4 linked regions of the Homo sapiens genome follow. The gene in region 3 interacts genetically with the main gene of each other region. Each region holds a gene or a part of one and is shown on either strand. Other genes may lie near its edges. The genes, in order: JTB, CMTR2, PTAR1 and SGMS2.

The links.
Region 1: changes in PTAR1 (region 3) and JTB are lethal when combined (synthetic lethality), as found in Homo sapiens cells (one study listed by BioGRID).
Region 2: changes in PTAR1 (region 3) and CMTR2 are lethal when combined (synthetic lethality), as found in Homo sapiens cells (one study listed by BioGRID).
Region 4: changes in PTAR1 (region 3) and SGMS2 are lethal when combined (synthetic lethality), as found in Homo sapiens cells (one study listed by BioGRID).

Annotation. Positions count from the first base shown.
Region 1 is NC_000001.11:153,974,671-153,981,697, forward strand, and holds the start of JTB (protein JTB precursor), read right to left. Parts: upstream 3,005-7,027; 5' UTR 2,583-3,004; coding exon 2,500-2,582; intron 2,344-2,499; coding exon 2,306-2,343; intron 2,106-2,305; coding exon 2,023-2,105; intron 1,236-2,022; coding exon 1,156-1,235; intron 166-1,155; coding exon 9-165; 3' UTR 1-8. UniProt on the Homo sapiens protein: Required for normal cytokinesis during mitosis. Plays a role in the regulation of cell proliferation. May be a component of the chromosomal passenger complex (CPC), a complex that acts as a key regulator of mitosis.
Region 2 is NC_000016.10:71,280,871-71,286,414, forward strand, and holds the end of CMTR2 (cap-specific mRNA (nucleoside-2'-O-)-methyltransferase 2), read right to left. Parts: intron 5,070-5,544; 5' UTR 5,051-5,069; coding exon 2,738-5,050; 3' UTR 522-2,737; downstream 1-521.
Region 3 is NC_000009.12:69,728,986-69,736,018, forward strand, and holds part of PTAR1 (protein prenyltransferase alpha subunit repeat-containing protein 1), read right to left. Parts: intron 5,270-7,033; coding exon 5,165-5,269; intron 3,368-5,164; coding exon 3,154-3,367; intron 1-3,153.
Region 4 is NC_000004.12:107,904,899-107,911,931, forward strand, and holds part of SGMS2 (phosphatidylcholine:ceramide cholinephosphotransferase 2), read left to right. Parts: exon of another isoform or gene 1-3,666; coding exon 3,667-3,833; exon of another isoform or gene 3,834-5,451; coding exon 5,452-5,655; 3' UTR 5,656-7,033. UniProt on the Homo sapiens protein: Sphingomyelin synthase that primarily contributes to sphingomyelin synthesis and homeostasis at the plasma membrane.

The sequences.
Region 1 (7,027 bases), on a different chromosome or scaffold from region 3:
GAATGTAGCTATATGGACTCGATTTGCTTCCGGACCTTTTCCAGAGCCTTTCTGTCCAATTGTCGCTGACGAATGATGACAAGACAAGCGAAGATCAGGGCCACACACACGACAGCCCCTTCGAACTTCCAAAATAAGCGTTGTTCCATCAAAGCTGAGCGGCAGCTGAGGGCAGGAAGGAATAGTTATTCCCAAGGAAGGCCAGACAGCTTCTCCCTCTAATTTCCCTTCTACTTCAGCCTAGCCAGGATACACTCAAGAGGAAATCAGAGCCAGGCTTCTATTGTGTGTATAGTACATAAATCCCTCTCAAATAGATCATTTAATTTATTCTCTGGATAAGCAGAGCTAGTATTAACCAATTTTACTGATGAGAAAATATGGCCAATAACATAGTGCTGAGGAGTAGAGCTGGGACTTGGGTTCAAGTAATTTGGCTCCAAATCCCGTCTTCTTTCTTATTATTTTTGAGATGGTGTCTCGCTCTGTCACCCAGACTGGAGTGCAGTGGCGTGACCTTGGCTCACTGCAACCTCCACCTCCCGGGTTTAAGCAGTTTTCTGCTTCAGCCTCCCAAGTAGCTGGGATTACAGGTGCCCGCCATCATGCCCAGCTAATTTTTGTATCTTTAAGAGAGATGAGGTTTCACCATCTTGGCCAGGCTGGTCTTGAACTCCTAACCTCGTGATCCACCCGCCTCGGCCTCCCAAAGTGCTGGGATTACAGGCGTGAGCCACCCCTCCCAGCCTCTTTTTTTTTTTTTTTTTTTTGACACACAGTCTCGCTCCATTGCCCAGGCTGGAGTGCAGTGGCATGATCTTGGCTCACTCTAACCTCTGCCTCCTGGGTTCAAGTGATTCTCCCTGCCTCAGCCTCCCAAGTAGCTGGGATTATGGGCACCCACCACACCAGCTAATTTTTGTATTTTTAGTAGAGATGGGGTTTCACCACGTTGGCCAGGCTGATCTCGAACTCCTGACCTCAGGTGATCTGTTAGCCTCAGCCTCCCTAAGTACTGGGATTATAGGTGTGAGCCCGGCCCCCTCTTCTTTCAGATATTCCATGCTACCCCCAGACCAGGGGAAAAGGTGGGACCATCCATCTAAAGTCATAGGAGCAAAGGAGGTGATCTCAGAGAAGAGAAACAGCACTCACCTTTTGAACTCATTTCTCTTAGATGAGCTGCATGTGATTTTCTCTACATATCCTGTGGGACCACACTCAGGGGTAGTTTTCTGCCAGGAGAAAAGGAGCAAAGTACATGTTAGGAAGGGGCAACAGGATAAACAAAAAGGCTGCCATTCAGAAGGTGCAGGTGCCCAACTGCTATGGTTTGGAGTGGTAGGCAACAGAGAGCTAATGAAAGAGTTCTGATGCGGATGGTGGAGGTGGTGGTTGCATGATTACGAATGTATGTTAGAACACTTCAGGGGCAACAGTCTAGGAGTGGCAAAGATACATTCCATTCCAGAGCCTACTATACTAAAAGTGAATAAAACATAGTTATTTGAGGCCGGGTGTGGCGGCTCACGCCTATAATCCCAGCACTTTGGGAGGCCGAGGCGGGCAGATCACGAGGTAAGGAGTTAGAGACTAGCCTGGCCAACACAGTGAAACCCGAGTCTACTAAAAATACAAAAATTAGCCAGGCATGGTGCAACGCGCCTTTAGTCACAGCTACTCAGGAGGCTGAGGCAGGAGAATCGCTTGAACCCGGGAGGCGGAGGTTGTGGTGAGCCGAGATCTCGCCACTGCACTCCAGCCTGGGCAACAGAGTGAGACTCCGTCTCAAAAACAAACAAAAAAACCATAGTTATCAGTTGAATACTGCCATTAGCTTGGAAAGAAAGGGGCACATTTTCAGGGGAAAGACAAGTACAGATTTGGACATACACTGAGACTGCAAGAAGAAAGAAAAAAAGATGATGCAAAGGCAGCTTAATAAGACTTGGATGTTAAGATGTTGCTTAAGTGTTTGCTTAGATGTTTAAAAAAAAAAAGGGTAGAGAAATAGATACTCACAGCCCGGAAATTAGAGCATGGAGAGCACTCTTCTGCTACCACAAACTCTTCCACCAGCCAGCATGGCAAATTTGAGGTGCTTGCTGAAAGGAAAGATAAATGCCAGCCCCAGGCCATTCAGAAAACATTTCTCCCAGGCTCTGCCCATCCAACTTCCCGGCACAGCGCTTGCCCTCATTCCATGTGGTGCCGGCCTTTTCCACCTGTGCTCTTGGTATATGGGGAAGATACTAAAACCAAAAACAAACGACGGGACGTGTCGGGTTCCCAGACAATCACCCACCTGACAGCTTCTCTTCCTGCACGGGAGCCTCTGCTTGGCTGTAGCGGAGTTGGGGGAAGGGACAAAAGTCAAAACCCAGAAAATAGGGCACCCCCTCCTGCGCTGTCCATGGATAAGATCTCCCCCAGCCCCGAGGCCGGGAACGATCCTGTCCTCCAGTGACCTCCTTTTCCCTCCCCTTACCTCCTCCTTACCAGAGCTTTAAGGTGAAAGCACAGAGCAACCAGCAGAGGTGGCGGCCCTGGGGGAGGCCAGGCCTCCCGGCACCCGCAAGCATGGAGCGCCAAGTGTCGCACCTGTCGGAACAGAGGGACCTACTCCACAGGCCTCGTGCCTCCGTCGGAGCGCAGAGGCGGCACTTACTCTGCAGCCCTCCCAGAGGTTCCAGGTCAGGGCAGGGAAGGCCGGAGTTGCCTATTGGAGCAGAGGATCTATCAGGACGTCCCCGTTGCCACAGCGAGAAAAATCGATATGTTTTTGCGGGCTAGGGAGGCGAGCGCCTTCTGCGGGGTCCGCAGGGCGCTGGAGGAAGGGCCGGCGGGGGCTCGCGGCCCTAGCGCCCGCTCACCTCCGCTCCCGCCCCCGACGCAGCCATCTAGCCCCGTGGAGGATCCTCGGGCGCGGGACCGAGCTCGGGGCCCGGTGTTCCCGGGGGCGTTCGGTCGTCGCCCGCTGGGGCTTATAGTCTTCCGCGTCGGTGGCGCCTCGCCTGCTGCTCACTGGGAATTAGCTCGGCGCCCCGTTGCATTGTGGTCTTGGTAGTCTTTGCGAGAACGGCAAATGGCGGTTGCAGAGGCTCGTCCGAATTCTCGGCTCGCTGCTCCCTGGCTGGCGCGTGTTTGTTCATTCTGGGCTAGGTGAGCAGGGACAATACGTCGCCCTCTCAGGACTTTGCTCTCTCCTTAAAACCCGAGGATTCACCGTCAAGCTTCTGGTTTCTCTGACATCCTTCCCCAGCCGCCCCTTCATCGCCACCGATGATCCAGTGGAGAAGCTGTGTTGGAGGTCAAGGGATGGAGGCGAAACTGCGCGTTCTCGTCCCTGCAGAAACCGGAATATCCGAGACACATGACGAACATGAAACTTTCTCCTTGTCTCTTGGCTCCCACTCCGCTACACAGATGAACGGTGTTACCTTCCCTCATGTTACTTTGCTAAGCCTACTCCTCAGAGCTGGTCCTTTGCATAACCTCTTCAAATGCTCTCAACTCTCCCTTGCTCCTACATAATGGAGTAATCATAAGTGCAATGAGAAAAGCATGAGATTTGAAGTTCCATAAGTATTGAGTCTAGGTTCTGGTGGTTATTAACTCCATGATCTTAGGAAAGTATCTGTCAGTGTTCTGTGTAAAACGGAAATGCTAATGTGTATTTACCAGGACTTTTTCTTGCGAGAGGCAGATGAAATGTATCTCCGTTTCATGAGTAAGTTCAGAGAATATAAGTGACTTGTCCAAGGTCAGCAAGCTAATGAGTGGGAAAGCTGAGGCTTGAGCCTAGACTGTCAACACCCAGGCCAAAGATTCATTGCCTGCTTTTCATCTTATGGAGTTAAACCTTGATACACACTCAGATCTGCAGTGACTTGACCAGCACTGTGGGTTCATGCTTTACTGTCTGATAACGAATTTTCATTTAATTTTATTTTTTTTCTTAGACAGGGTCTAGCTCTGTCACCTAAACCTGATGAGGGCTGAGCCTTCATTTCGCCGTTTTTTGTTTGTTTGTTTTTGTTTTTGAACGAGATGGACTCTGGCTATGTTGCCAGACTGGAGTGCAGTGGCAAGTCACAGGAGCCATCATAGCGCATTACAGCCTGGAACTTCTCGTCTTCAGGGATCCTCCCAAGTAGCTGGGATTTCAGGCATGTGCCACCATACCTGGCTCTAATTTTGAATTTGTTTCTTTAAATTATTATTTGTGTTTGCTGAAATTGTGTGTGTATTATTTTTGTGTATGTGTGTGAGTAGTTATATGTTACATAAAGTAGGTTGTGGGGTTTTTTCCAGTAATGTTTAGCTATAATTGAAGTTTGGGCCGAAATCTGCTAGTATTTGTTACTCCTCACCAAATCCTACCTTATCTCACAACAAACTGTAAGATCTTGTGATATTTCACTTCCAATAACCTTACCAGGCATCAGAGTGGGGTCTCTACTCTGAAATTAAATATCTGCCATAAGGTATGTTGAAGACGTTAGTCTCTTTCCCAGGAGGCACAAAGTGCAAGTCTTTTCCTCATCGCTTGAGCAAATTAAACCTACCGGACAGTTTACTACAGAACTCAAACACAGCTGGGCGCAGTGGCTCACGCCTGTAATCCCAGCAATTTGGGAGGCCGAGGTGGGCGGATCACCTGAGGTCGGGAGTTCAAGACCAGCCTGACCAACATGGAGAAACCCCGTCTCCACTAAAAATACAGAATTAGCTGGGCATGGTGCCATATGCCTGTAATCCCAGGTACTCGTGAGGCTGAGGCAGGAGAATCACTTGAACCCGGGAGGTAGAGGTTGCGGTGAGCCGAGATCACACCATTGTACTCCAGCCTGGGCAACAAGAGCAAGAATTCATCTCAAAAGAAAAAAAAAAGAACTTAAGCATAAGCCACAAATAAGGTTTATCATTACCTCATCAATGCTTGGATACTTACATTTATCAAGTTATTACATTTTGCTGTGTAAAAAATATTATGTATGGTGAAAGGGGGATATATATATATTATGTATTAAAATATGTATTATATATTATATATTAAACATAATATAATTATATATAATTATATATTAAACATAATATATTATATATTAAATATATAATTATAATATATATTTAATATATATGTATAATATATAATTATATATTATATATAATATGTTATATGTTTATAAACATATACATGTTATATATATTATATATTTCCTATATATTTAATATATAATATATATAATTATACATTGTAATATATAATATAATATAATATATATATACTTAAGGATGCTGTGCATCAAGCCTGAATTTTTTTTTTTTTTTTGAGATGGAGTTTCGCTCTGTCTCCAGGCTGGAGTGTAATGGTGCGAACTCTGCTCACAGTAACCTCTGCCTCCTAGGTTCAAGCGATTCTCCTCCCTCAGCCTCCCAAGTAGCTGGTATTACAGGCACCCACCACCATGCCCAGCTAATTTTTTTTGTATTTTTAGTAGAGATGGGGTTTCGCCATGTTGGCCAGGCTGGTCTCAAACTCCCAACCTGAAGTGATCCACCCACCTCGGCCTCCCAAAGTGCTGGGACTACAGGCATGAAACAACGTGCTCGGCCCAAGCCTGAATTTTCTTTTGCATTTCCAGTAGTTTTGCCATCTTTGTTATTCAGCAAAGAGATGTTTTTGTTTTCGTTTTTGTTTTTTTGAGACAGAGTCTGGCTGTGTCACCCAGGCTGGAGTGCAGTGGTGTGATCTCAACTCACTGCAACCTCTGCCTCCCAGGTTCAAGTGAGTCTCCTGCCTCAGCCTCCCAAGTAGCTGGGACTACAGGCGCCCTCCACCACTCCTGTCTAATTTTTTTTTTTTTTTGTATTTTTAGTAGAGACGGGGTTTCACTATGCTGGCCAGGCTGGTCTTGAACTCCTGTTGTGATCCACCACGCCCAGCCAAAGAGCTGTTTTTGTTAAAGTTTGCTTGTCCCAGGCTGGGCGCAGTGGCTCACGCCTGTAACCCCAGCACTTTGGGAGACTGAGGCAGACTGATCACTCGAGCCCAGGCGTTCAAGACCAGCCTGGCCAACATGACAAAACCCTGTCTCCACTAAAAACACAAAAGTTAGCCAGGTGTGGTGGCACGTGCCTGTAATCCCAGCTACTCGGGAGGCTGAGGCAGGAGAATCGCTTGAACCCGGGAGGCAGAGGTTGCAGTGAGCTGGGATCGTGCCACTGCACTCCAGTCTGGGCGACAGAGCCACACTCGGTCTTAAAAAAGAAAAAAAGTCCTTGTCCCTCTGCTTGTAAGTACCACCAAAGGGCTATATTAACTGACTATTGGCCAGGCATGGTGGCTCACGCCTGTAATCCCAGCTACTTGAGAGGCTGAGGCAGGAGGCAGAGGTTGCAGTGAGCTGAGATCGCACTATTGCACTCCAGCCTCGGAGACAGAGCAAGACTCTGTCCCTAAAAATAAATGAATAAATAAATAAAATAACTGACCATTGTGCCTGGCACTTAGTAGATGCTCAATATACATATATGAATAAATGAACTTCTCATTTTCCTCACTAATAAAAGCAGATATTAATGCCTATCAAATAACTAAATGGATTGCTGGCAGAATCAAAGAAGCTTGCACAAATCACTGGATAAATCACTAGGTGCAGTTATTTCCCTGAGGCTAGGACTGTTAGAGTTCTTCTCGCTGGGAATTTCCTGTGCTCAGGACAAGGCTCTGCCCACAAGGGCATCCGGACCCCATGGCGGAAAGAGGATATCCAGACCTTCAGATCACTCTACCTCCTGCTCTTTGCTATTTTCCTTACCAACAGAACAGCTAGGGAAGAGACAGCAGTAGGATTAGTCCTGGTTCCACAGAAACCGAGCCTGATTTGGGTAAATCAATCACTTTGAAGACACAATAATTGGATTTGAGTGGAGAACAATTCTGACAATAATCCAAGTTACCCAAAACAGGAACATTTGTGCAAATGGTGGCCTTTAATACCAAGAAAGACCATGACAAGTG
Region 2 (5,544 bases), on a different chromosome or scaffold from region 3:
AAGGCCTGCAATTTTATATAAACTAAAAAATGCATTAGAGGCTCAAAATAATAACCCATATACATCTATTGAGCATTATTCTTTTAATTACATGTCCTAAAACATACCTACATACTATGAGTTACCATACGTAGTATCAAGCTTTGAGTTTACTTGCTACTTGGCCCATTAGGCCAACCCTAAAAAATGCTTACCATTGAAATGGAAATTCATTTTCCATTTCAATATTGAATTTGAAATATTCATATTTTGTTCCATATTGAAATTTTTGCTTTATATTGAGTTCTGCTCCTAAGATCAGTCCGAAATGTTTTATCCAGCTTTTTTTTTAAAGGTGTGGGAAGCCTATTATAAAATAATTGAGTCTCTCTTTTCAGTGTCAACTATGTAGTAAACAAATTTGCAGCCAAGTCTTGCATATCTGTCCCATCTCGATATAATAATTTGTCATCATTTTAAGAGTATAATACTTACACTAAGTGTATGTTTTGTTCAAATTAAACAGATTACAAAGGAAACAATTTGATGTTTGTTTTTTAATAGATATTACAAATTAAAAATCTCAAAACCTGTGGAAAAAAGTTTTTAAGAACAGTCTACCTTGGTAAAACATGCATACTCTCACCTCTTCCTGTCTTCTTCTACTTTTCCATTCATCTTTTGAATAGCATTTTTCCTCTCCTTTCTCTTAAAGAGAAACTCATATAAATCATTAGTACCTGTCATCTATTAATATATCCAGTTCAATCTGAACCTTCCTCAAGTCATGTCTAACCTCTAAAGCAATTTGAATCCAATGAATCAGATGAGCAATTGATTCCAAAACCCACGTTAAAAAGCAAAATACATTTGAGAATACTTCAGTGTTATATATTCCAGTACAGATTAGTGTCAACAAAACACTAAGCATTCAATACTTATTTGAAGGGCTTAAAGACAGTAATAATGCTAGAATCTGGACCCATGCCTTCAACTTCATTCTTATCAAATAGTTAAAATAAGTAAAAAATAAGCTGCATTATTAGTATATTGAATCCCACTTAGCAAGGCATAAAGACTATTAAGTGCAAAATGGTTTTCCAAGAGTGTTTTTTTTTTTCCTCCTGGTAATCAACCTTCTGTCAGACTTCCATCGTCATACAACTGGAATTGCTTCCATAGAGTCACCAGTAGGAAATCAGATTTCTTTCAAAAATCTACTTCCAGGCCTCCACACACTCCTCTTCCAATCCCCCTTAAGTATTCAATTTCTTTCCTGAAGTAGGCCTTCCATAAGTATTACAATATTAAGGACTAAATTTTAATGAATGCAAATCAGAGAAAATGAAAGAACATTAACTATCATTCAAAACTCCCTTTAAAAATGTCTGTTTCCAACTTATATTTTTAACTTCTCCCATAATTCCATTTAAAAAAGATGAACACAAAATCTCTCTAGTAATGACTTTATTCATGAATCTATAATGGAATTCAAAATAGCAAAGAACATGAAAATGTTCAGATTAATATTTATTAACCAAATGCATCAGAAAATACATCTATTTTCACATATCAAAAGTGCCTAAAATGCATGTGAGAATATAAATATTCTCCACTTTGTGGAACTTCAAGATAATGAAAAATTGCTTAATACACTTTGCCACAAAAACTCATTACACTGCAAATACAGAAGAAATAAAATAACTCATTACATTGCAGATACAAAAGAAATCAAATGTAACTGGCAAAATAACCATTTCATGGCTAATCTTTTGGTAAAGTGCTATTTTCACACTGAAAAAAAGAAATTAGAAAAGATTAAAAATTTTAAATTCTGAACCATCATTCTGAAAGTCTGAAGCGTTTTCTTTAGTATTCACTATGTTCATCACATTCATGTGTTCCCAACATGAGACTAAACACTATCTCAAAATCTTAAAAAATCTTTCCATTCACAGATTATTTCCTGGAAGTTAAAAATTATTACATCATTGCTAAATGAAGCTTTTCACAATACAGGCGTGTATTAGATACAACAAATAATTTTTCATTGTTCTAAACATGATCTTTGGTTTAAAGCTGTCCCGTTATATTTTTATAGTTGGATGGTGTGGTCAGTAAAAGATTCATACAACAGCATACTAGTTTTATTTGAGCCATGTAAGAAAATAGGGTCAATCACCTAAGGGCAATGAATGGCATGTTATCAAGAATCTGGCGAGATGAATTCCCTGAAATTCATAACTGATGTGTTAACGGAAATCAGTGTTGCTGAACAGTGATTTACTCATTTCCTTTCCTCAATTACCTCTCTCAATTCATTAACAACATTAACCAATGAGAGGAAATTAGTTGGAAAATTCACTAACAGCATTAGCCACTAAGAGGAAATCGGCTGGAAAAAAAAAACTAATCTGAACAAAGGTACACAGATGCAAATCTTAAGCAGATTAAGTAAGACCAACTAAATGGCATAGGTAAGCATGGCTGTGGCCACCCATACACATACACACACCTCATATTTAGAGTGTGAATATCTATCATTGCATAGATTCCACCACGTGGAAGAGCTCTATGCCTGTGGGTGTATATACCCTAGAGATCAGAATGGATGGTTTTCCAGAATTAATGAGACTTTGAATGATGCAAATGTTGGCCTTTCCCCAAAATAAAAGGTTTTTAAATTAATAGAGCAACAGGATGCAAATACTGGGCAAATTATAAGAAATCATAAAGTTGAATCTCAGAAAGCATATGTTCAGTTTTGTAACTGAAGGCTGTTGATAATTTCTTCTCTCTCTCTTTGAATAATGAAATGCAAATGCCTTTTAGCAATGGCAGCATTCAAATCCCACAAAAAATCAAGCAGGGCCCCCTTAAGGAGTACCTCCATTGGCACAAACTGTAAAACCTGCTGGGGTGAGTCAGAGTTGAGCAAAGTGCTCAACAATTCATTCACACTCTGCAAATATCGGAAAACTGGATTTGGAAGGTCCTGATAACCAACACATAGCAGGACTGCGCAGGTCCTCAGGGGATCAGAGGATGTGGGACAAACAAAAGTGATGAATCTAAAACAACTGTGGAGTACAAAGATCAAACCAGCCATAAATCTTGTGAAGCAAGAAAGTACAGGCAAAATCATAACATCTCCTGTATGAAGCTCCCGCAATGAATGTAGAAGGCAGTCCAAAAATAAACGCTGGTAAGTTGGATCTCCATCATGAAGCAATGAACAGCTAAAAGTTGTGAGTTCAGCTGATTCTAGGAGTCGAACTTCCAACGGTATATGCATTTTGATATTACGGAGAGTCGAAAAGCCCACCAGCAGGCACTTTATTTGATTGCTGGGTACTACAACCTGCTCATCCTGAAGGCACTCAGTAAGGCTACACAACTCGGAAAATATCAGTTCTTCAGAAAAAACATGACAAGAACAAGAATACTGCTGTTTTGGCCTAAACTTGGAATCCAAATTAAAAGCTCCTCCTAATGACTTTTCAATTGCTTCATTAAGAGTTTTTAAAATTTCACCATTGCAAAAAGGAGAACATTTTACCTTTGGCAGTTTCTTTCCCTCCAAAATATGCCATAAGTGACACTCAAGATTGGAAGCTGTTCCTTCTAAAATAGAACTCTGCCCAGGATGATATACACCATGTTCTTCAGCCCAACTATTAAAGTATCCTTTGGCTACTTTATCTTTCCATGAAAGGGCTTCTAGCATCTTCCTTTCATTATAAGTTTTAAAATATTTGTTCCTCTGCCCAAACCATTTTGTATTTGTACTACAACCAATACTAGATTTTTTTACTAGCCAATTATTTCTGGAAAGATGTTTCAGTTGAAATTTTTGCATAAAATATTGTATAGCACAATCCCTTAAATTATTCAGCTTTTCTTGTTCCGCCTTTCCCATGCACTCAAATAGACGAATGTTTTCAGAAATAGTCTCTAGCTGATATTTATGAAAGAACACACAACATTCTTCATGTCTCTTAAGAAAAGAATCAGGAATCACATGATGGGGAAAAAGGGCTTTCCTTTTCATTTCAGTCCCAAAATTCAAGGTCATCTTAGATAACAGAGGATGGATGGCCTCTCTCCCCTTATAGTGGAGGCAAACCACATAGACTTCGGAGTTTCCTGCCTTGCTAGTAGCAGGTTTGAAAACATGGACTTGGTCAAAACAACAGTTTAGCAGGTACATCAAGTTTATGGAACAATGTTCAAACATAGTAAACATCTTTAGAACAAAAGAGCCACCGTTTCCAAGAGTGGTCAGAGCAGTGACAACTTCACAGTAATGCAAAGAAGAAACTAAAGCTTCTTGTTCACCTGGGTTTCCTTGGCAATCAAAACTCCCATCTGCAGTGACCAAGTGAACAGTAGCCATGCTGCTTATGAAATTCTGAAGTCCAGTCAAGAATTTCAGGGTCATGATATCACCAGTGTTATCTGGACCAAAGTACCACCAGTGCAAGGTATTTGCAATAAGCCGGTCATCCATAATCATCATGAGGTCGTCATTTGCTTCATGGTATGGATTCAGAGTATTCGCTACCCAACTCCAATGACAAGGAAACCGATGGGATTTTAAGTAGTGGTTGAGACTAGCTATAAAAGCTCCTGGAGCTTCACAAAGGTGTAGAGAATTCAGTTTTCCATTCTGAAAAGCTTCCTGTGGAATAAGTGGAAAGCTGCACAAAATCTCATGGAACTTACACCATGCTTGAGTACAAAGTTCAGCATTCACAGATTTTCTAACATGAGAAATGATTTTCCCCGCTTTATTAGTGAAAGCAGTGTGCTCATGCCACTCATCCAGTTTCTTATCACTCAGTAGGTTTTTTACTTCATTTAGGGAGTTCTTCAAATCAAGAAATGCATTAAGTTCAGTGTGGTCACAGGTGAAAATCTCACTGGGATCTGGTAACTGCCACTCATTATTAAGTGGCTTGCCATAAGAAAAGTTCTTGGCAAAGAGTTCAAAAATGTCAGCAAGAATATCTGGGCTGAATGACGCGGGACTTGCTAGCTGCTGAACTGGTGTCTTTCTGCACTTACTCATTTTCAAATCAAATTAAAATCTAGGAAGAGAAAACACATAATTAAATGAATCAAATTTATTAGTGAGCGAAATCTCATGAGCAGCAAATACGATCACACTCATGACAAACTCCATAAAATGGGAAGGCTAAAGTCAGCATACTCTGTTATTTAACCAAGTAATCTGGAATAATGAAAAAGGCTTTGATATCCAAGACCTGGGTTCAAATTCCAGCTCTGCTAATTATGGCTTAATAAGCACCCTTGGGCAAATTCCATCTCTTGGATTTGGTTTCTTCTCATTAAAAAAAAAAGCCTATCATTTTTTAAGAAGAAGATAAAACATACTAGCATATAAAAAACATATAACAAAGCATAATCATCAGTGAATGACAGCTCTGATTATCATAGTAACCCATCTAACTCTTCCCCAAAGTTCTTCCCTACCAATGACTGTGACAACACCTACATGACCTCAAACAAATCCATCCTTAGAGATTCATCCCTGGACATGAC
Region 3 (7,033 bases):
GTATTTGCTGTCTCATTCAATGCTAATAAATACATTAAAAATTATATTAGGCTGCTGGGTGTGGTGGCTCATGCCTGTAATCCCAGCACTTTGGGAGGCAGAGGCAGGTGGATTGCTTGAGGTCAGGAGTTCAAGACCAGCCTGACCAACATGGCGAAACCCCGTCTCTACTAAAAATATAAAAATTAGCTGGGCGTGGTAGTGGGTGCCTGTAATCCCAGCTACTTGGGAGGCTGAGGCAGGAGAATCGCTTGAACCTGGGAAGCGGAGGTTGCAGTGAGCTGAGATTGTGCCACTGCACTCCAGCCTGGGCGACAGAGCAAAACCCTGTCTCAAAAATAAATAAATAAATAATAATATTAGGCCTACCCTAATATAACCTATTGTGAATATTTTCCTTTAAATCATCTTCCAAAATATACATTTTAGTCATAACAAAATATTCCAATGTGATGGATTGTAATCTAACAATTCCCTCATTATTGAAGGGCTACAGCTTTTCTAGTTTTTCACTACTATAAATGCTACTTTTATATATCAAACTTCTATATTTAATAGCCAGTGTTTATTGAGCACTTAATTAAGGCACTTTGATAGCCACTTTATATGAATCCTCCCTTTCAATTTGCATCACTCAGTGAGATGGGAATTATTGTCACCCTCCTTTTCCGGATGAGAAAACTGAAGGTTGAAGAGGCTAAGCAACTTCCTCAAGGCTACACAGCAAATTGGTGGTAAAGCCAGAATGCAAAGCAGGTCTGCATGACCACTGAGTGAAGCTTCTAATCATTCTACCATACTTCATCTTCCATTATTTCTTTATGATGAATTCCTGGAAGCAGAACTCTTAAAAATAACACCCTATTTTTAAAAGTGTGATAAGTGCTGCCATGTTGCCCTTCAGTAAGCTTATAACAATTTGAATAATGCTCATTTTCATACTCTTACTAATACTCGATGCCAGCACTTTAAAAAGTCATTTTCAATTTCCTAAGTTAAAAAATGCTGGCTCATTTCATATATATTTTTAAGCTGATTTAGACTACTGGTATTTTTGTGATTACCTCCTGTAACAGACAAAGCATAGTAGTAAATGTTCTAGGTGGGCCCAATGGCTTATAACAACAGAAAGGGGATTTTGCAAATTTAGGACTCCTCACTGACAACAAGAGCAAGAGATGTTGCAGTGGCAAGTGGTGAATGGAAGAATGGTAAGTCTTCCTCCAAGGGCGGGTCAAGGAAGGATGATGACATCTGAACCCAGGAGTGGACCCTGGCAGCTGAGCTCACCATTAATGAGTTATAACTCACCATTAATGAGTTATCTTTACCACCAGATGGTCTCAAGTAACCAAAAATTTCACTTTGGCCCCTTGTTCCTGATTTTATGGAAATGCCACTTGTAAAGGTCCACATCATGGCAGAAAAATTTCCAAAGATCTCTCAGTCAACCTGGACTCCGCCTTCCTTTTTATCCCCAATCCTCCCCATATCTCTTTCCTCTTCCCACACACTATCAAGTCATGGATCTGAGATGACCACCAAGCACTCCATATCCCTGACAACCCACCAAACAACTTGTAATCATGCCTCCCAACTCAATGTATCTTCCTTCCCCCGGCAGCTATTTCCAACGAGCGCATCCTAGATGAAGAACGATTTTTCTGTGCTCCCATTGTATTCTGATGCTTTGTAATTGTTGGTCTACTTTCTCAACTAGATTTTCAATTTGTTGAGAGCAAACACTTTGTTTTACTGCGTATACAGGACAGTCGGTGGGTATGATAGGGTTTTATACTTTTTCATCAATAAATTGCACGGAGTTGATCAAGCAAACTGGTAGCCAATTTTCTATCTCTGGAGAACAGAGAAAGGAACTAAAATCGAGTGAATCTCTCTCTATTAGATGCCCAGTAATTTACATCCATTAACTCAATTAACTCTCACAATAATCCACTGAGGCAGACAGTAGAGTCCCTATTTTATAAATGAAAACAATAAAACCTTGCTTTCCACATATAGGTAGTGGGGCCAAAATCTGAACCTAGGTTGATGTGATTCTGAGCCTTGGTTCTTTCTATTCCATTAGGCGGCCACCCCTCCTGAAACTCAAAGCCATGTAAACTGAATGGGGAAGGCTTCTCTTCCAGAATTATTGGCTTAAAATCCTCTGGAAGTAAAAAGTCTCCCATTTGCCCTGGCCAGGAAACAAAGAGAGAAATGGGAGCATGGGAAGAGGGATGTAGGAAGAAGAGGGTGGTAAGTTAAAATTACATAACACTTCCCCACTTATCTGAAAGCATCACCTGGGGCACTTCAATCTTCAACTTGACCTCTTTTAACTGTCTCAAGCCTGAGAAGCTTTTTAGATGAGCACCCTAGATTCTTATGGCACTGTGACGCCATCAGAAAAGAAAAAACTGAGACACCGTAGTATATAAGGAGCAAAAGGGACATGTGGCTCTCATTCTGATGAATAATAAGTGGTACAACTGTAGCTAAGTCTAAGCCATTAAAATTCTCTGGAAATCTCCATCTCCTCATTTCTAAACTGAAAGGATTAGGCTGTGAGAGTTTCCAAACTGGCTCTGCATTCAAATAACCCTGAGTCAGTGGAAAATACTGATCTCTAGATCCACCCTCATTCTGCTTTAGTAGGCTTGGAGTGGAACTTAGGAATCCCCAGGTAATTTATAGGCTCAGCCAATTTTAAAAACACCTGGGTGAGATTGTCTATCCCTGCCCTCCTCTCCCCCTTTTCAGAGGACGAGAGTGTGAAAAGACAGCCAGCTGACTTAGTATATTGTCACATAACCAAACACTACCAAGAAATAGCAATTCCAGTTCTATAAGGCTTAATAATCCCTTCCTGTTTCAGGATAAAGTGAGTTATGCTCAATCTTCCTCAGTTGGTTAAACCTGCCTTGCTTTACCAATGCACTAGCCTTAAGACTGCCAAAAACAGCACTAGTGGGGAATGCAAGCTTTTTATTTAATTACAGGGTTCCTCCAGAGGTAGCAGCTGTTGCGATTCTCTCAAGTTGCCAGACCATCAGTTTCTCTACTCCTTCAAAGCTCTTCTGAGAATGAACTACTACCAGAAGATTTTAAGGGCAGACAGGCAGTCTGCCCAGGAGACAGTAATATTCCTACCTTGACATCTAGCTTGGCCAAGTGCTGTAAAACCCAGATGCGATGGGACCAAGCATTATAGTTGCTTGGGTATCTCCCTGCTGCTTCACCACAGACCTCCATCTCTTCTTGTATGAGTCGCTGTGCCCTTTCTGTGGGAATTGTTCCCAAGTTTCCTTTGGTCACAAAGGAAGGCAAGGAGGTTTCCTGAATTAGCTGTTGTAGCACCCATCGCCTGTTAAGGCAGCATGTGGGAAAGAGAACACAGAAAGAACATAAACCAGAGAGAAAAATAACCAGTTTTCATTGTTCCTAATTTAATTTCCATTCAGAGACAATGCAAAATAATACCTGTTTATAAGTCTAGTATTTTGGAGATGGGGAGGGGTTGTTTTGTTGTTTATGATGATACTAATTTAGCAGTATGGATGAAGGGTGGAAAATGGATAAACAGGAAAAAAAAAAAACTTTAAAATCTGTAATACAGAGAATGTCATTACTTCTAAAATGACAATCCCAAAACTCCACTTGGCCAGGAAATGTAAAGGCAATTGGTGTGTGTGTGTGTGGTCGTGGTGAGAGGTCATAAATTAATGGCTGATAAATATTATAAGGAGTCATGATTCACATCTTTAAGTATATATGCATGCCTCACCCTATGTGCATTTGTTTGCAAACAAGAAGCTGCATTCTGATAGCTTTCATTCAGCAAAATTCTGTATTATAGCATAAAATCTGGAAGGTAACAAATATAATTCATTAAACCATTAAGAAGGTGTCAAAATATCCTTATCCACAAATTCTCCCTTTGTCTGTTTAAGATTTGCATTAACATGTATTTACATAAAAAACACTAAATAGTGTTTCGAGCTACTTAATGTGTTTACTTTGTACCAGTAATTTACTTATATAAAAGCATTTTTTAGACTAAAGATTTCAAACCCAAAGGTACAGGAAATTAAGTAAGAAAACTCACTTTGTCATTTTAAAATAATGGAATTTCTTATTTAACAACAAAATATTGCTTGATAAAAAAAATTAGACAAGCCAAACTGATGGATGCATATTTAACAGTTCCTTTCCCCTGCCACCATCCCTTTCCAAACCCCCATACACACAGTCATATACCCTTCTGTGGTATACTATCTCAATTTCTGGTGATGAAGAAAATATAACTGACTATGTGGTTTGGAAGAAGCTGACCTGCAATGTTAACTAAAGGCACGATTACCACTAAGACACCTGGAACGGACATAAGATCCTAAAAATGCCCACGATTTAAGAAAAATTAGAGTGGCTTAATAAACTGAGAATTTCAGAGTGACTTCTTCATTGGTCCTGACTAGCAAGCCCACACCATCCCATTTTGGTCAAATAAGAGTAGTTACACAGGGTCCAAGAGGAAGATGGTTCCAGGTGGCCAGGATTTTGAGAGTCCTAAAGTGCATTCTGGCTATCTGTCCCATGCTTTTAACCTAAAAATGTTCTTTGTATGTATGGATTTTAGCAACTTTAGCTCAGCCTACACAGCATTCGCTTCAGCTGCCCTCAGCTTTCTCTGTAAGTTAATTTTAATAACCACAACCATCACCACCAACATCTTTACCAGGAAAACAACCAAATGCTTTTAAAATCCATATTGCTCATTACAGTTGAGTATCTATAAATGCAATGCCCACAACTGCTTCAAAGAGTTAATAATAGCTAACATTTATTGAGTATTTAATATGTGCCAGGCACTGTGGGAGTGTTACATGCATTAACTCACGTAAACTTGACTGTTAACTATATGAGACAGGTGTAATTATTATTCTCATTTTACAAATGAGAAAACTGAGGCTTGGTGAGTTAAGTAATTTCCCATGAACACTTAGGTAGCAAGTTATATAGCTCCTAGATTTAAATGTAGGTAACCTGACTTCAGAATTCATGCTCTGGAACCAATAAGTAACCTTGCCTCTCACATGTCATGTTTCTTTCTCCAGCCAGTCTGAATCCTAAGTAAGAGTACTATGTTGTAAATTAACCACACCTGTGAATCCATGTTTCTGGACTCTTTGGAAACTTGGTTAAGGCGAGTTTTCCCAGATGTAAATCCTTAATTGGATTTAAAGTGCCAGAGAGGATCAGCTCTTTCCTGTAAAAAAAAAAAAAAAAAAAAAAAAAAATTAAACATTACTTTATCCTTATATCCAAAGGTTCTACATGGCTTTTAATATAATCTCATTGTGAAGCGAATGTCTAAGAATTTTAAAACAAAAAAAGAAAGAAAAAAAGCCCAAGCCACTCTGGGATATAAAACACTCATAAATGTGACATGCAGTAATCAAGAATGTATTCTCATAATCCCAATATAACAAACTAATAAGCAGAAAGAGAAGCTCTTAAATCAACAGATTTTAACGATTTTTAAATCTTAACTATTTGCGTGAGGGTAAATGGGGTTTTCTGGCCTATCTCATTTCCAAAAGTTGTGAGACCTGATATCGTACCTATAGGGCCAATCCAATACCAGCCAAAATTGGTCTAGTTTCCTAAATAGGACTTGACATGGTCTATTTCATTACAAAACCACACATACAACAAACACAATATGGTTGAGATGTAAGGGAAAAAAAAATCATTCATGGAATCACTATTCTAACCAAATTACTATTTTTTATTTTTGAATTTTCCCTTCTACTTTTCCCTATCACACATACATTTTAACATATAATTTTACATCCTGCTCTCATTATATCTTAAGAATTTCCCCATGATTCTATATAATCTTTGTAATGAACATTTTAAATGATCAAATTAGTTTTCATTTAGAAGCTATGCTTTTCCCTTCTTGTTAGACATTTAGGTTGCGTCAAACTTTTTGTTATTTTAAAACAAATCTGGGCAGGGGAAGCTTTGTGCTTATAACTTCTTTCTTTTGTATTCTTACTTTGGATAAGTTTCCAAAAGAGCTATTAACAAGGTAAAATACTTACATGACCCTTGATATACGAGGCCATTCCTTTTTAAAATATTAATATAAGCAGCAGAAGTAATAGCAATGTAATGTTTTGGTTGTTTTTAAAACTGTTCAAGCCCAACCAAAGCTTCAATGCAATCAGTTGTCCCTTGGTATCTTGTGGGGGCTTGGTTCAGGACCTCCCAAGGATACCAAAATCTGCGAATGCTCAAGTCCTTGATATAAAATGTGTTGCCATATAACCTACACACATCCTCCCATATACTTCATATCATCTCTAGATTACTTATAATACCTAATACAATGTAAATGCTATATAAATAGTTGTTACATTATTCAGGGACTAATGATAGGAAAACAAAGTCTGAACATGTTCGCTACAGAAAGCAATTTTTTCCCCAAATATTTTCTATCTGCGGTTGGTTGAATCCATGGATGCAGAACCTACAGATACAGAGGGCCAACTATATAAAGAATGTCATGCAAGAGCTTTCTATACCTGTTTCTCAGGTAAATACAATTTACATTTAATTTCTCAGGTAAGTTTTTGATAAGTGCTGATATTACACTCTCACTGAATTCTCAATGTATCTATAATTTTATAATAAAATCAGATCATTTGTTATTATTTATCTTAAAATGTCCTTCCTGTGTAGGGCTGATTATTCATTTATTTTAGAGAAGTTTAAGCCAGAGAAAACCAGAATCCAGCTCTTATACCATATCTACTTAGACGGACTTAATTCCTAAATACCACAATACATTTTCTTTCCAACAGTGACATACTATTTATAAAGTTTTATTTGATAAAGAAAACAACTATTTTCCTTTCAATGTTCAGGAAACCAATTTGTCATTATATATATATAATATATATATAAAATATATATTTTTTTCTTGCAACAGCCAATTGCTTTTGCAGTCTTGGATTATTTTTCT
Region 4 (7,033 bases), on a different chromosome or scaffold from region 3:
TACATTTGAGTTTAGGATCTTCTCTATAATCTGAGGATCATAAAAAAATTACAGAAGAAGATGGGGATGAGGGTGGAGGTGGGGGAAGAGGTGCATTTCAGAGTGAAGGCACTGTAGGTTTAAAGTAATAAAAACACCCCCAGGAAACTTAGATTCAGTTTTCTAAAATAACTGAAAACCAACTGATATTAACTGTATTAGTCTGTTTTCACACTGTTGATAAAGACATAACCAAGACTGGGTAATTTATAAAGAAAAAGTGGTTTAGTGGACTCACAGTTCCACGTGGCTGAGGAGGCCTCACAATCATGGTGGAAGGCAAAAGGCATGTTTTACATGGCAGCAGACGAGAAAATGAGAACGAAGCAAAAGGGGTTTCCCCTTATAAAACCATCAGCTCTTGTGAGACTTATTTCACTACCACAAGAACAGTATGGGGGAAACCACCCCCATGATTCAGTTATTTCCCACCAGGTCCCTCCCACAGCACATGAGAATTATGGGAGCTACAATTCAAGATGAGATTTGGGTGGGGACACTGCCAAACCTCATAAACAATAATAGCAAATAGACATAATACTCTGTCCCAGGCACTATTCTAGGGCCTTGATGTAAATTAACTCATTTGATCCTTACAACCACCCTCTGAGGAATGCAGTATTTTTTCCCATTTTTCAGATGAGTAAACTTAAGCTTAGAGAAAGTGACTTGGCCACAGTGCAGAGCCATCATTTTGAGAAGCAGGTATTCATGTTGAAGGAGGCTGAATCCAGGGGTTTTGCTTTTAATTTCTTGGCTCTGTTTAGAACTTTGGAAATTCAAGCTGGCTAACTCTATCGTATTGCCAAGGAATAGTCTACTTATCTATAAGCAGGGACATTGCTCATTATTGTACATTCTTTCATCTCAGAGCAACAGCAAGGCAACTTGTGATTGATTTTATACTTTAATGAAGGCCTCTCAGTATGTAGAGACATTTTTTCCCAAGACATGATTTTGACTAGAGGTTTCTAAAATTGTGTACATTTATATATAGTGTGCAAGGAATACCATTCTGCTTTCTCCAATATTTGATTAGAAATAGAGGGACAAATCTGTAATACTTAACACAAACTCAGTTTATAGTCAGTTCTGTATGTAAGCAGAGCATTCCATGTTTGTGTCTGTTTTTTTCTATGCAATTAGGAAAAACATTTATCTTCTAAATTATACCATATGTTCTTGTTCTGAGTAAGCAGTGGTTCCAGTGGTTTCTTTGAAAAGTCTGCTTCTAGAATTAGATGTATCATTTATATATATATTTTTTTACTTTCCCGCCTTTTGATCAGTTTGGGCTCTTTTCCTTGTTTGCTCTGTTGTCATGAGTAGATTTAAATTTAGTTGTGAGAGCACATGAAGATGTGGCACCAGGACCATTTCGGGGTTAGCAAGGGAGGGCTTCATACAGTCGTGCAAATATTATAATTGGGGGGTAGGTTCATGATAAAATTAGCCTGGAGAAATCAGACTAGCTGTTAGTGCCAATCATCTGGCTAGTAGAGAACAGTTTTTTGGTTTTTTGTTTTTTCACCTGGCCACCCTACCAAGTCTCTATTATTTAATGAGCCCTAGGGCTAGAATTCCACACAGACAGTGATGTTAGCTATTATTTGTGTCATCATCTAGCTCATTGTTATCCCTATGGGATGAATGAGAAGAGGATTACCATTTTGCCATTCTATTTCAAAACAGCTTCTATTCAATCTTTTCTTTGGGTCAGCCAGTGTTCTCAGTTAATGAGTGGTGGGCCCAATGTGGTAGCATAACAGGAAATACATTTTTATGAGAAAGCACTGCTGGGGTTTCCAGCCGTTCCTAAAACCTCACTTGCAATTCCGTGAGTAGTAAAAAGAAGATTCAGGCCACCTCTGGACCTACTTCAACTTTGCTTCTTGTGAATAAACAAATGCAAAATAGTTCTAGTTTGCCTAAACATTTTGAACTTCTAAGGTAAATCCCAGATGACCTGTAAGTTGGGAAGCAGGGTTGCTAAGAGACCTTGGGGGTGGGAGGCGGGTAGGGTCTGAGGTGCTGGGAAACGCATATTTAGTGAGACCTCCAGATTTCTCAATGTTCATTCAATTTTTAATGTCCTGAGTCTAACACAACAGTTATGGGGACTGGATCTGGCTCCTAAGACTGCAAGAGTAAGGCCTCTCCCATTAAAATTCTGAGATTCCATGAGTTTTCTTCCAGAACTTAGTGGCAGAATGAAGTAACTGACAAGTAATAAGGAATATATCCAAAATTAGAAAATCAGACTTTCAAATGCCATACAGGTTTATTTTCTTACTGTGTGCCATTTGGGACCAACAGAGCAACGGCTAGTTTTACCAAGAGATTATATTTGAATGATACCTGATTTGGTATTTCATTTAAAGTTCTGGAAATGGGCTGGGCGCAGTGGCCCATGCCTATAATCCCAGCACTTTGGGAGGCTGAGGCAGGCAGGTCACCTGAGGTCAGGAGTTCAAGACCAGCCTGGCCAACATGGTGAAACCCCATCTCTACTAATAATACAAAATTAGCCAGGCATAATGGCGCACCCCTGTAATCCCAGCTACTCGGGAGGCTAAAGGAGGAGAATCGCTTGAACCCAGGGGACAGAGGTTGCAGTGAGCCAAGATCGTGCCATTGAACTCCAGCATGGGCGACAAGAGCGAAACTCCCTCTCAAAAAATAAATAAATAAATATAAAGTTCTGGAAATGGATCCTTTTGCTATTCAATCATCTTTCTACATGTGAATGTAAATATCACTATAAATGTAAACATAGTTAAATATGAAATCAATTTCAGTTTATTGGATTAACTTTTATTGTGAGCTAATACAGCTTTAAAATAAAACAGATCACCAAGCTGCTAGAGATGAACTCTGGTTTCAGTTATATTTGTCATTAACACTTGTGTGAGAAGGGGAGGACCATCATGTTTAAACCAGTGAGTGCCACAGTTGTCTCTTACAGCTAGTAAGTAGAATGAACTTTTAAGTGGCTTTACCAGGAAGGCTGAGTCCATAAGTGAATGGTTAGGAACCCTAACCTTTACAGAGGGAATGTTTTATAGTTTCTATTGGCAATAACAGTGTAAAATTGCTGAGAATCAAAATATTGCTAGCCACAATGCCATTCCTTCTGACCCCCTTACCCTACACATACCCCTGGAGAAATAATATAAATTTAAAACCTGAAATTACTCCTGCTTTCCCATTTCCCCCCTTATTTTCATAGACCACCACCTTTTCTTTTGATCCCTACTATCTTTCTTTCCAGTGGGAAAGTGGCTCCTTTATGTGAGCCAGTATGCAGCAATTCCAGCAAACCTAATAAGAAACAATTCTGTTCTTTCTTACTAAACAGCTTATTCACGTGGGTAAGGCCTAGAATGTCTAGTGTTACCAGCTTCCCCAGTGAATGACTATTACGCCCGCTGCCAGGGAGCCCCTCTGCCTCCCTCCTACCTGAGCAGATCCTGGGCAGTTCATAGTGACTCAGTTTAGGTTATCAGTTTTATCCTTCTGGTGACTTCCTGATCCTGGGTTATTCTACTTAAGGTCGTTAGGACAGACTGTAATCATTACATTCATCTCTGGGAATCTTATTAACTCTGTAATTTTTCTACTGTCCAGATTCGCCTCGTCACTTCTGGTGGTATCATTTAATCTGCTGGCTGCTGAGTGCTGCCGGGATCATCTGCATTCTTGTAGCACACGAACACTACACTATCGATGTGATCATTGCTTATTATATCACAACACGACTGTTTTGGTGGTACCATTCAATGGCCAATGAAAAGGTGAGAGCAGTGAAGATGCTTGGATAATTTCTTTTCTTTGAATGCAGTGGACCCTTTTCATGTCGTGGGGTTTTAGATAGCCTAATGGGGATAACCGATGTTGCCACATTCACTTAAACATATATCCATTACTGCTTTTTAAAATAAAGCAAAGAACTTCACAAATATAAATGCCATTTATGGATAAAAATGCCATAAAGTTATGGAGCACAGTGCATTGCTAATTCAGGTAACTTAAACTAGAATGAAAAAATATATGTACTAAATTAAAATTTAGGAACCTTCTCTGTAAAAGCATTGTAGTGCAGCTGGGTAAGACATAATCCTGCCTTCAACTTAAATTAATTTTAAGGAGAAGGTAACAGCTATTTTTTTTAATTTTTTTTTTTTTTGAGACAGAGTCTTGTTCTATTGCCCAAGCTGGAGTACAGTGGTGCAATCTTGGCTTACTGCAACCTCCACCTTCCAAGTTCAAGCGATTCTTGTGCCTCAGCCTCCCAAATAGCTGGGATTACAGGTGCACGACACCACGCCTGGCTAATTTTTATTTTGTATTTTTAGTAGAGACAGGGTTTCACCATGTTGGCCAGGCTGGCCTTGAACTCCTGACCTCAGGTGATCCTCCCACCTCGGCCTCCCAAAGTGCCAGGATTATAGGCGTGAACCACCGTGCCCAGCCGATAGCAGCTATTGTTTAAAATCACACAAAATAAATAGCTTATGAATGACTGGATTTGGTATATCCTCTGGTGATAATGGTGCTCTCTGGCTTCCCTTCTGATTCTTCCTCATTTGCTACTGCTGCTTCCTTGTTTCCAGATGCCTTTTCTTTCTTCTCCCATTGAAACTTAAAGAGCTAGCTCAAATGCCACCTCTTCCAGGAAGCTGTCTCTAACTCTTGCTCTCTTCCTCTGGTCCGAAGGCAGAATTATTCCTCCCAGTCTCTCTTTTCTCCTAGTCTTGGTATGTGTCCTTGGTGTAATAGAGTTGGTCTGTGTACCATGACTTACTTATCTTTGAATAGACTTGCCATATTGTCAATTTGGAGAATTTGTGAGCAATTGAAATATTACATTTCCAAAGGATCTACGTCCAACTCTTGGTGTCCACTAATAAATGCTCTTTCTTTGGATTACTTTATTTCTCTTTGTAGCTCTGTTTCCTATTTTGTAGTCTCCCATTTCCATCTTCCTTCTTACACTTCCATCTAGTTGACTACTGACACCACTGAACCAAAATTTTCATCTTTCCTCTTAAATGTGTTCAACTTCTGAGCTCTTCTTTCACTCTTTGACTTGCTTGGCCCCTAGATTTGATCACTCACACATCCTGAAAATTATTCCTCCTGAATAATTCTGAAATCCATTCCCAGAGTCTCCATTCTTACTGGAATTGCAGGCAGAAGAAATTGCATGAGCCACAAAGGAAAGAAAGACACCTAGGTGTGTTAGGGGAGCGGAGTCATGGTAGAGTTAGGGAAAGGACATGAAAATCATTACTGCCATGTGATTCTGAATTCTGTTTTCCCTAGGTTACAGTGAATGACAATTTAAGAAAATAATTGGGATGCAAATTGAGAAAGATATGTCTCATTTAAATTTTTTTCTACCATTTACAGAACTTGAAGGTCTCTTCACAGACTAATTTCTTATCTCGAGCATGGTGGTTCCCCATCTTTTATTTTTTTGAGAAAAATGTACAAGGCTCAATTCCTTGCTGCTTCTCCTGGCCGCTGTCTTGGCCTCCTGGCTGCTTCAAATCATCATGCAAAAAGTATTCACGGGTTCAGAAGATTGGTGAAGACAATGAGAAATCGACCTGAGGAGCAAAACAAAGGCATCAGCTCTTACACCAAAAGAGTTAACGCTGTAACCAAAGGTATAGTTTTGTTTTTTATTTTAGGAGAACTGACTGGTAAATGAAGAAATGGACCAAATTTTGTGTAAACGATTAGAAAGATGAACAAAGTATTGCCCTTTGACTGGTTTTCTTCTTCATCCTGAGAAAGATACATTCTCTTGCAGCTCTTCATTCATTGGTGACAAGCCCCCACCCCGGGACTTTACTAATGAGCTTGTTAAAGAGGTGCCAAAGAACATATTCCTCCTTTCTTTATTCTTTCTCCACCAAAACCCTCTACTTCAGAATTTTTTCAGGATATTTTTCAGCCCAAGGTCAGAAGAATGTGTTAATATTTTAAATAAAATATCTGGACATCTACAGCCACTGTGTAAATAGAACTGCCTAATGTTGAGAGTGGTTTTTAGCATTAGGTTTAGCAAGGGGGAGATCCGTGGGTTGTGCGTCAGCTTTGGGTGAATTTTGTTTCTACCCTGTCACGGGGAAAGTTCGGGTTGAGTCCAGGAGTGCACACTGCTGCTGCCACCCAATGCGCTACATATCACTTTTTTTTGTTTTGTTTTGTTTTGTTTTTAAAAGATCATTTTATCTTAAAAAGGAAAGCTGATCCAAGTAAACACGAAAGTATTTGACACACCCCACAGATTTTACATGTGTGTAAATGTTTCACTTTAAAATCTCTATGACAGATACACAGGAAACATGAGATGGTTTCTGCTAATGAGTGGCCCTTGAGTACACACTTAGATGCTGTCTGCCCTGTAAATTTGGATCTGGTGCCCCAGGGCAGTCAACTCTTCTAGCACAGGCTGAAAACACGTGTGTGTCAACTGAGGTTCACACCACTTGGGGAATGAGCCTGTTTTCTTTCCAGGTCAGGCCCTGGTGTGAGATCAATTTTAGGGCTCCTAATTGGAGCACAGAAATGTATTTGGTCAAATTTCATTGAAGGTGATTTCTTCCTTTTTCTGTTGTACTTTATGGAAAAACCAAGATGGAACCTGAAAGTTAATGTATCCTTGCTTTTAGCAAGAGACTCAGTTTCTTATAACTAGTCCTAAGGACATATGCCGCAATTGAGTAATTTTACTTTTACCCTATGAAAATAACATGGTGCTGCACTATAATATACTCTCGGAATCAGTGTGTTAGTTACAGCTATACAGTGAAGGGGGATAACTGTTTCTAAATTTCTTTAAGGTGATGCCAAAAAATGGATTAAAAAATCTGATCAGATTTAATGTTACCAGATTTAGTGCATTATTTAATGCTATTGGATCTTTTGGATAATTCTTGGCTTAATTTCTTAGCTACTTGAAGGTTAATTTGCAAGACTTTTA